Homo sapiens: one gene and its partners. The protein of the gene in region 1 interacts with the protein of each later gene in a biochemical or structural test. Each region holds a gene or a part of one and is shown in the gene's direction. Other genes may lie near its edges.

What was found.
Region 2: the proteins of PLD1 (region 1) and PEA15 form a complex in vitro, tested with the Homo sapiens proteins (one study listed by BioGRID).
Region 3: the proteins of PLD1 (region 1) and RHOA form a complex in vitro, tested with the Homo sapiens proteins (2 studies listed by BioGRID, with this or other methods).

What each region holds. Positions count from the first base shown.
Region 1 is NC_000003.12:171,602,136-171,604,582, reverse strand, and holds part of PLD1 (phospholipase D1), read left to right. Parts: intron 1-1,280; coding exon 1,281-1,505; 3' UTR 1,506-2,447. UniProt on the Homo sapiens protein: Function as phospholipase selective for phosphatidylcholine. Implicated as a critical step in numerous cellular pathways, including signal transduction, membrane trafficking, and the regulation of mitosis.
Region 2 is NC_000001.11:160,211,884-160,215,540, forward strand, and holds the end of PEA15 (astrocytic phosphoprotein PEA-15), read left to right. Parts: intron 1-1,226; coding exon 1,227-1,382; intron 1,383-1,538; coding exon 1,539-1,603; 3' UTR 1,604-3,489; downstream 3,490-3,657. UniProt on the Homo sapiens protein: Blocks Ras-mediated inhibition of integrin activation and modulates the ERK MAP kinase cascade. Inhibits RPS6KA3 activities by retaining it in the cytoplasm. Inhibits both TNFRSF6- and TNFRSF1A-mediated CASP8 activity and apoptosis.
Region 3 is NC_000003.12:49,366,949-49,370,605, reverse strand, and holds part of RHOA (transforming protein RhoA isoform 1 precursor), read left to right. Parts: intron 1-2,057; coding exon 2,058-2,178; intron 2,179-3,657. UniProt on the Homo sapiens protein: Small GTPase which cycles between an active GTP-bound and an inactive GDP-bound state.

The sequences.
Region 1 (2,447 bases):
TAGCTAGTTGCCCATCAGGGAAAACTATTCAAGCTGTGTTCTAGCCCAGACTAATTGACCATCTGTGAGAAGTTGGATAAGTCTGTGTTCTTCTTCATGACTTCCAGGGACAGACGTGAACCTCTTTAAAAAAAAAAATTAGGGAAAATACGCAATTTTTCTCTTAGAGCCCCTTCCAGCAGAGAAACTTATTATTCTTAATGAAACATGTCTACTGTCTGTATAACCTTGTTTCTTTTCTTTCTTTCCTTTTTTTTTTTTTTTTAATTGACATGGAGTCTCACCCTGTTGCCCAGGCTGGAGTGCAGTGGCATGATCTCGGCTCACTGCAATTTCTACCTCCTGGGTTCAAGTGATTCCCCTGCCTCAGCCTCCCGAGTAGCTGGGCCTACAGGTGCCCACCAGCACACCCAGCTAATTTTTGTATTATGATACAGGCTGGTCTTGAACTCCTGACCTCAAGTGATCCGCCTGCCTTGGCCTCTCAAAGTGCTAGGATTACAGGCATGACCCAATGCGCCTGACCCCTGTATAACCTTATTTCATCCTTATTTCATGGACCGAAGGCCATGATCAAATAGGTCATGTGCATAGAGTCATTAAAATGTAATTTTACAAATGCAGTGCACAGCCTTATTTGGGTCCTGGATTTGGGGGAAAACATCTATAAAAGACATTTTGGGGATAACAGGATAAATCTGAATATGAAGCATAACTTAAATGACATTATATAATTAATTTTCTTAGGTGTGAGAATAGTGCTGTGATTATATAGGCACATGTCCTTATTCTTAAGACATACCTGCAGAGAAGTATTCAGGGGTGAAGTGTTATGATATCCAAAACTCATTTTCAACCAGCAAAGTAAGTGTTACATATTAACAATTGATAATGCTATGTAAAGGTACAGATATGAGCCTCTTTCAAGAAAAGTTAGGGAAAATATAATATGCAATATTCCTCTTAGACCAGAAGCTCCAGTGAAATTCAGGGATGATTATTATCCAAAAAAAATTAACCTTAATGTGGGGTAACATTAGTGTAATTTCTTGCCACTAACCATGATTTTTTAAATGGAAGCAGATCTATCTGTTTGTAGCAGATCTATCTATTGTTGGTTATAAGATAACCAACTCTTAAATCAGGTCTGTGCTGTAACATAAGACTAATAATATGTTTCATACAACAGAGGTCTTGTCTGTTGGAATAATTATTTTCCATAAAGGCCATGTGCTCGCTTTTAAACTTTTCACTCATTTTTCTATTTATGCTCTAATCAGGTTTTCCGGTGCCTTCCCAATGATGAAGTACACAATTTAATTCAGCTGAGAGACTTTATAAACAAGCCCGTATTAGCTAAGGAAGATCCCATTCGAGCTGAGGAGGAACTGAAGAAGATCCGTGGATTTTTGGTGCAATTCCCCTTTTATTTCTTGTCTGAAGAAAGCCTACTGCCTTCTGTTGGGACCAAAGAGGCCATAGTGCCCATGGAGGTTTGGACTTAAGAGATATTCATTGGCAGCTCAAAGACTTCCACCCTGGAGACCACACTGCACACAGTGACTTCCTGGGGATGTCATAGCCAAAGCCAGGCCTGACGCATTCTCGTATCCAACCCAAGGACCTTTTGGAATGACTGGGGAGGGCTGCAGTCACATTGATGTAAGGACTGTAAACATCAGCAAGACTTTATAATTCCTTCTGCCTAACTTGTAAAAAGGGGGCTGCATTCTTGTTGGTAGCATGTACTCTGTTGAGTAAAACACATATTCAAATTCCGTATACCAAAATCCATTTCCTTTGTAACAAGAATTTACCAGTAACTGTGATCTAGGTTGCCAAAAGTTGTCTGAATCTCCTTATTCTTCTCTGATCTTCATTTATGCAGCCAATGTCTAGCTGGACCTGCCCTCATCTTGCAGTTCATACAGGCACTGTTTGAGAGATTGTTTATTATTAGATGTTGTAATGCTGCTTCAAGATTCTTCATGGTTACATGGGATGCCCCTGCTCATCTGGTCCTGAAGTAGTAACATTCACCCAAATGAGGATATAGTCATTATTCCTTTTCAGTCACTGTACGAACACGGCAGACTTTAGCCTACACAGTAGACTGTGTTAGGCACTTCTGGTAACATTGACACTGTATCTTGACACCACTAAGCAACAGGAAGGAATAAATTCCAATATTGAGACAGAGATTTATTTCATTTTGCTCCCAAAGGCACTGACAACATGAGTCCTTGTGATTAGGCCCACCTGATCAAATGTAAAAACATGCATGGGATATTTGATTACGTAACAACCAGCTAAAACTGAGAGCACACAGCCTTCGGAAACCCCCAAGGTGTCGAGGAGGATCAGATCCAGATAAGAGAAGATGATTCCTTCTAGTCCTGTAAAATTTCCTGTCATCCTTAGCTGCTGGGTTGATTGAAATTTGATCT
Region 2 (3,657 bases), on another chromosome or scaffold:
CCCTCATCGGTAAAAAATGTTATTCAGATACTCCTGTGCTATTATCACATATACAACAGAACATAAAAACAATCTAAAAATAGTAAAATTTTAAGTGGCAAAAATTGGGAAGAATTCTAGACAATAAAAATGGAAGAATACCTGAATGAGGGGAGAACTCGAAGTGTAATCTAACTGGTAAATAGTAATACTAATCTTTGTTAAGCATTTTTTAAAAACTGGTAAAATTTAAAACTACAAGTTCTATCATTTTCTTATCCACTTTGAGAGACTACTGCTTGGGGAGTGGGATCTATGGATTAGAGTAATCCCTCACAGCTGGAGGCTTTAGGGAAGAATTGGTGTTTAAGATGGCCCTGAAAGGTGAGTGGGATTTCTAAGGCAAGATCCAAAGGAGGGCATGCCAGGCAGAGGAACACTGTCACAGAGTATCTAGTGTGTTTGGAAATGCAATCAGTCCTGCTTGGCTTGACTAGGATGTAGGGTGTTTAGAAATGGCTGGGAAGGTAAGGTAAGACTGTGTTGTAGAGAGCCTGGGTATTGGATAGGTGAGGTGAGTGAACTCAGGGCCCTTCAGATATACTATTCTGACTGCTGTGTGGCTGGCAGGGAGAACGTATAAAGGAGGACGTGTTACAGTTAGACTGTATGGCAACAGTCAGAGGGGAGGAGCCAGGGAAGAAGGTCTAAGGGCATCTATAATCTCCTGGAATTGGCCAAGCCATGGACATCGTCCTTCTGGTGGTGTCCATACCTTCTCTCATTTAGAATAACCTTTCTCACCAGGCCCAGAATCTCTCCTGGGTTGCCTAGAGATTCCACCCTGCTGGTCCTACATGTGCTGTCAGCAAATTCTGATACTTACTTGGATGGAAAGTGGAAAAGGATGGGGGTGGGGGTGGGGTATCTGGAAGTCAAGTTGATTTTTCTTTTGTCCCCTCCCCACAACATATGGGAGCTAGTATCTAAGCTAAACCCCTCATTCTAACCACAATCTAGAAACTTCACTGACCAACTATCTGCCCTTCCTGCGAACAGTCCTCTGTATTGTTGTTTGGGTACCTTAGCTTTCTTCTCCTGGATTAGTAGCCCCTCTTCCTCCAGTGTTGTACCCTCCCATAACCAATGTCAGCAACTCAGCTTTGGTTCCAGGTCACTAGTCTGGTGGAGTAGGGGAAGCTGACCTCTACAGCCTAGCTCTGACCCTATCTCCTGCCTTCCTCCAGACAACCTCTCCTACATTGAGCACATCTTTGAGATCTCCCGCCGTCCTGACCTACTCACTATGGTGGTTGACTACAGAACCCGTGTGCTGAAGATCTCTGAGGAGGATGAGCTGGACACCAAGCTAACCCGTATCCCCAGTGCCAAGAAGTACAAAGGTAAGCGGCCACTCCTTTAACTAGCTGCACCTCTGCCTCGTCCCGTTGACTATCCTTGGAGTACTTGAGTTTTGGGAGAGTGGAGGCAGATGCCCAATGGGCCTGCCTGGCATCTCCCACACTGCTGTCCCTGGACACATACCTTTTTGCCCCCAGACATTATCCGGCAGCCCTCTGAGGAAGAGATCATCAAATTGGCTCCCCCACCGAAGAAGGCCTGAGCAAGGGGGAGGAAGAGGAGGAAGGTTGGACCTTCATCAGACCACTCCCTTCCCCCATCCTCCAGGAGAGGGGGCAAGGGCAACCCACCATCTACCCACTTACTAACCTGGTCCTAACCCCCTTACTGTGCGCGTGTGTGTGCGTGTGCGCACGCTCTGGCTGTTTGTCTATATGTCTAGCTCATCTAGTTCCTCTTCTTAAGGGGATGGGGGTCAGGGGCTAGGGGAGGGGGCTGAGTTTCCCCACTTTAGGAGGAGGTGGGGGCTATTTCTATGCAAATAGAAATCAGCACATTCCTCCTACTTCCCTTTCCTCCACTCCCCCCATATCTTTAAAGTGTGGAAGCAGAAAGGACCTGCATTTTCCTACATTGAGGAGCTGACATAGGGGTAAGGTATGGGAGAGGTAGGTGGATCCAGGGAAAAGCAGTGGGGACGGAAGGCAAAGAGACCACTCAACCCCCACCTGGAAGGGGCAAAGAAAAGCCAGAGTTCCATGTTTGTACTCCTGTGCTGGACTGTTTCCTGAGTACCAGCAGGTCCCTTTTTGTCTCTCATGGGCCTAGCATAGGTATGAGCCAGGGATCCTTTCCTGGTCCCTAAGATCAAACCCCATGGAGCAGCCAGCGTTAGATGCCCCCACCCACCTGTACTCTGGAGAGACTGTGCTGGGAACATGTACCACTGAGCCTGAGATGGGGATGAGGGCAGAGAGAGGGGAGCCCCCTCTTCCACTCAGTTGTTCCTACTCAGACTGTTGCACTCTAAACCTAGGGAGGTTGAAGAATGAGACCCTTAGGTTTTAACACGAATCCTGACACCACCATCTATAGGGTCCCAACTTGGTTATTGTAGGCAACCTTCCCTCTCTCCTTGGTGAAGAACATCCCAAGCCAGAAAGAAGTTAACTACAGTGTTTTCCTTTGCACCGATCCCCACCCCAATTCAATCCCGGAAGGGACTTACTTAGGAAACCCTTCTTTACTAGATATCCTGGCCCCCTGGGCTTGTGAACACCTCCTAGCCACATCACTACAGTACAGTGAGTGACCCCAGCCTCCTGCCTACCCCAAGATGCCCCTCCCCACCCTGACCGTGCTAACTGTGTGTACATATATATTCTACATATATGTATATTAAAACTGCACTGCCATGTCTGCCCTTTTTTGTGGTGTCTAGCATTAACTTATTGTCTAGGCCAGAGCGGGGGTGGGAGGGGAATGCCACAGTGAAGGGAGTGGCAGAATCAAATTGCTACATAGTCCAAACAAAAAAGAAGGCTTTTTCAAAAAACATTAAATTCACATGCAGTCTCAGAGACTATTTAGACAAAGTTCAAGTTAGGAGCTTTTAGGATGTGGGAGTAAAACTTTAATGGGAGGGGAGGGCTGGCTGCTGGAAGAAGGAAGAAGCCAGACTGGTTAGACAGTACTCTTAACTCCTAGCCCAGCCTAGCGTGCCCTGCCCCTCTGGCCACTGCTGCAGACACCTGCCTTAACACACACACCTCTAGGACTCCACAGTTTTGCCTTAAAGGACCTTCCCAAGTCTCCCTTTCCCTGTCTGGCTTCTCCCTTAAGAAGAGAGAGATACTTGTAGAATTGGGTGGGGGGAATGAGCATGAACTGTCCTTCCATTTGGGATATGTTACATTAGAGTGAGAGAGAGAATAAGGAGCCTTTCTTATGGAAGAAATGGGAGAAGAGAGACAGGGTTCTTTTCAGCAGAGTCTAGTAGTTTCTCTGTAAGGCAAAATAATCTAAAAAGACTAACCTGCCCACCCACTCCTTATATTGCTGTGAGATTGCCCCTATCTTGTGCTCTTCTGTCTGCAGTGTGCACGGCCTTGTTCTAACCCGGAATAAAGGTGATTGATTGTATTGCAACTAACTGATTTTAAAATTTCTGTGAGTGACCAGGATTTTGCAGGCTTTGAATCACTGGGAAGGGAGGGGGAACAATATTTATGGCCCAGAATAAGGGCTGGGAAAATACCCCAAGTGTATACCCTCACCCCACCCAATCTCCTAAGTATCACTGAGCTAAATGGAGTG
Region 3 (3,657 bases), about 120 Mb from region 1:
TCAGACATTTCTTGAGTAGTAAAGGCACAGCCAAAAGGGCTTTCCTGTCATCTCAGGCCTTGCCTAACAGCCAGCATGGTGTCTTTTCCTACCTACCAACTCAAAATACAGATTTGTTTCCATGGTTTCCACATTATAGCAGAAAATTTACTTAGTCTTGTATCTTCCTCTCTCGCCTGTATGCCTGGTAGGATGTTATTTAAAATTTGATTTCTTCCCTCCTGTCTGCTTTCTTTCCTAGTAGAATGTTATTTATAATTAAACACTTTTATAAGCTACAGAGTTATTTTTGACTTGACATTTTGAATTATGCCACTTGGTTCAGTTCTAGTATCTGTTTTGTTTTTTTGTTTTTTTCCTAATTGAGTCAAGGTCTCACTGCCTAGGCTGCAGTGCAGTGGCACAATCTCTGCTTACTGCAACCTCCGCCTCCCGGGCTCAAGCAGTCCTCCCACCTCAGTCTCCCAAGTAGCTGGGACTACAGGCGTGCACCACCACAGTCAGCTAATTTTTTTTTTTTTTTAAATGGAGTTTCGCTCTTGTTGGCCAGGCTGGAGTGCAGTGGTGCAATCTCAGCTCATTGCAACCTCCACTCATTGCAACCTCCGCCTCCTGGGTTCAAGCGATTCTCCTGCCTCAGCCTCCTGAGTAGCTGGGATTACAGGCATGCTTCACCACGCCCAGCTAATTTTGTATTTTCAGTAGAGATGGGGTTTCTCCACATTTGTCAGGCTAGTCTCGAACTTCCGACTTCAGGTGATCCGCCCGCCTTGGCCTCCCAAAGTGCTGGGATTACAGGCGTGAGCCACCGCACCCAGCCCACACTCAGCTAAGTTTTATTTTATTTATTTTTTTTTTTTTTAGAGATGGAGGCTCGCTTTGTCGCCCATGCTGGAGTGCTGGAGTGCAGTGGCACGATCTTGGCTCACTGCAACCTTTGCCTCTCGAGTTCAAGCAATTCACCTGCCTTAGCCTCTCCAGTAGCTGGGACTACAGGCGCACGCTGCCGTGCCTGGCTAATTTCTTTCGTATTTTAGTAGGGACGGGGTTTCACCATGTTGCCCAGGCTGGTCTCGAACTCCTGAGCTCAGGCAGTCAGCCCGCCTCAGCCTCCCAAAGTGCTAGGATTACAGGCATGAGCCACCGCGCCTGGCCACACTCAGCTAATTTTTAAGGTGTTTTTGTAGAGGTGGGTTCTCAGATTTTCAATTTTGAGAAATTTCAACCTAAAATAATTTAAATATACTCTCATTTGAGCTTGATGCTCATAAAAGTGAATACTCGGCCGGGTGTGGTGGCTCATGCCTGTAATCCCAGCACTTTGGGAGGCCGAGGCAGGCGGATCACGAGGTCAGGAGATCAAGACCATCCTGGCTAACATGGTGAAACCCCGTCTCTACTAAAAGTACGAAAAATTAGCCAAGCGTGGTGGCGGGCGCCTGTAGTCCCAGCTGCTCAGGAGGCTGAGGCAGGAGAATGGCATGAACCCGGGGGCAGAGCTTGCAGTGAGCCAAGATCTTGCCACTGAACTCCAGTCTGAGCAACAGAGTAAGACTCCGTCTCAACAAAAAAAAAAAAAAAAAAAAAAAAAAAAAAAAAGGCCAGGCGCGGTGGGTCACGCCTGCAATCCCAACACTTTGGGAGGCCGAGGCGGACGGATCATGAGGTCAGGAGATCCAGACCATCCTGGCTAACACAGTGAAACCCCGTCTCTACTAAAAATACAAAAAATTAGCCGGGTGTGATGGCGGGCACCTGTAGTCCCAGCTACTTGGGAGGCCAAGGCAGGAGAATGGTGTGAACCCGGGAGACGGAGCTTGCAGGGAGCAGAGATCGCGCCACTGCACTCTAGCCTGGGCGACAGAGCAAGACTACATCTCAAAAAAAAAAAAAAAAAAGAAAAAAGAAAAAATGTAAATACTCCTGTGTTTTACTGTTTTAGACCGTCTGCCATTTCAATGGTCTGCCATTTCAATGTACTATGGTAAGTGTCACTTTTTCTAAAAGTGGGTGGGGGGATTAACCTTGCACTCTTGTGGTTGTTTTTCCCATTACAGGTAGAGTTGGCTTTGTGGGACACAGCTGGGCAGGAAGATTATGATCGCCTGAGGCCCCTCTCCTACCCAGATACCGATGTTATACTGATGTGTTTTTCCATCGACAGCCCTGATAGTTTAGGTGAGTGGCCCTGCACCCTGATATTTGTCACTGCCTGTGTAGCTAGTTGGCATCTGGTTTCTGGGCATCAAGTGGCTGAAAAGCAGACATGAACTTCAGAGAAGCAATCATCGTCAGTGGCCGGAGTCCTGGAGTTTGGGATTGTAGAGCGTGGGCCTTGGGTCCCTTTCAGCCTAGGTCTCCCATGGGTACTGTATTTAAAATGTATCCACCTAGGCAGGGCACGGTGCCTGACACCTATAATCCCTGCGCTTTGGGAGGTCCAGACGGGTGGATCACCTGAGGGTCAGGAGTTCAAGACCAGCCTGGCCAACATGGTGAAACCCCGTCTTTACTAAAAGTACAAAAAAATTAGCCAGGCATGGTGGTGCACGCCTGTAGTCCCAGGTACTTGGGAGGCTGAGGCAGGAGAATCGTTTGAACCTGGTAGGTGGAGATTGCAGTGAGCCGAGATTATGGCACTGCATTCCAGACTGAGCAACAGAGCAAGACTCTATCTCAAAAATAATAATTATTATTATTATTACTAAATAATATTAAATGTTATTTAAAAATCTAACTGCCTTGTAAACTAGATGAATTCCAGATACAAAGATGAGTAAACTAAGGCTGGTGCGGCGGCTGACACCTGTAATCCTAGCACTTTGGGAGGCCGAGGCTGGCAGATCACCTGAGGTCAGGAGTTTGAGACCAGCCTAGGCAACATGGTGAACCCCTTGTCTCTACTAAAATACAAAAATTAGCTGGGTGTGGTGGCGTGCACTTGTAATCCCAGCTATTCCAGGGGCTGAGGCAGGAGAATCACTTGAGCCTGGGAAGCAGAAGTTGCAGTGAGCCAAGATCATGCCACTGTACTGCAGACTCCATCTCCCAAAAAAAAAGATGAGCAAACTAGATGAGTTCCAAATGTAAAGCCATCTCTTTTGGGGAAAGACTTTCTTTTTTTTGGTTGCCCTGTCTTAGCCTTTTTCTGAAGTGTCTTAGCTGATAGAAGCTTGAATGTGATCATTTCATTAGCCTAAACACAGCCACATAATTCAGAAGTCAGTAAGTCAGTATTCTTTTTTTTTTTTTTTTTTTTTTTTGAGAGGGAGTCTTGCTCTGTCTCCCAGGCTGGATTGCAGCAGCTTGATCTCAGCTCACTGCAAGCTCTGCCTCCTGGGTTGATGCCATTCTCCTGCCTCAGCCACCCAAGTAGCTGGGACTACAGGTGGCCACCACCACGCCCGGCTAATTTTTTGTATTTTTTAGTAGAGATGGGATTTCACCACGTTAGCCAGGATGATCTTGATCTCCTGACCTCGTGATCCGCCTGCCTCGGCCTCCCAAAGTGCTGGGATTACAGGCGTGAGCCACTGCGCCTGGCCCAGAAGTCAGTATTCTTTAGAAAAAGACTGAAGAATGCTAACCTGACATTCTGTGAAACCAGGCTTGAAAAAACTTGCTTTAGGTTTGTGCTGAAGATGATGAGGTATCTAT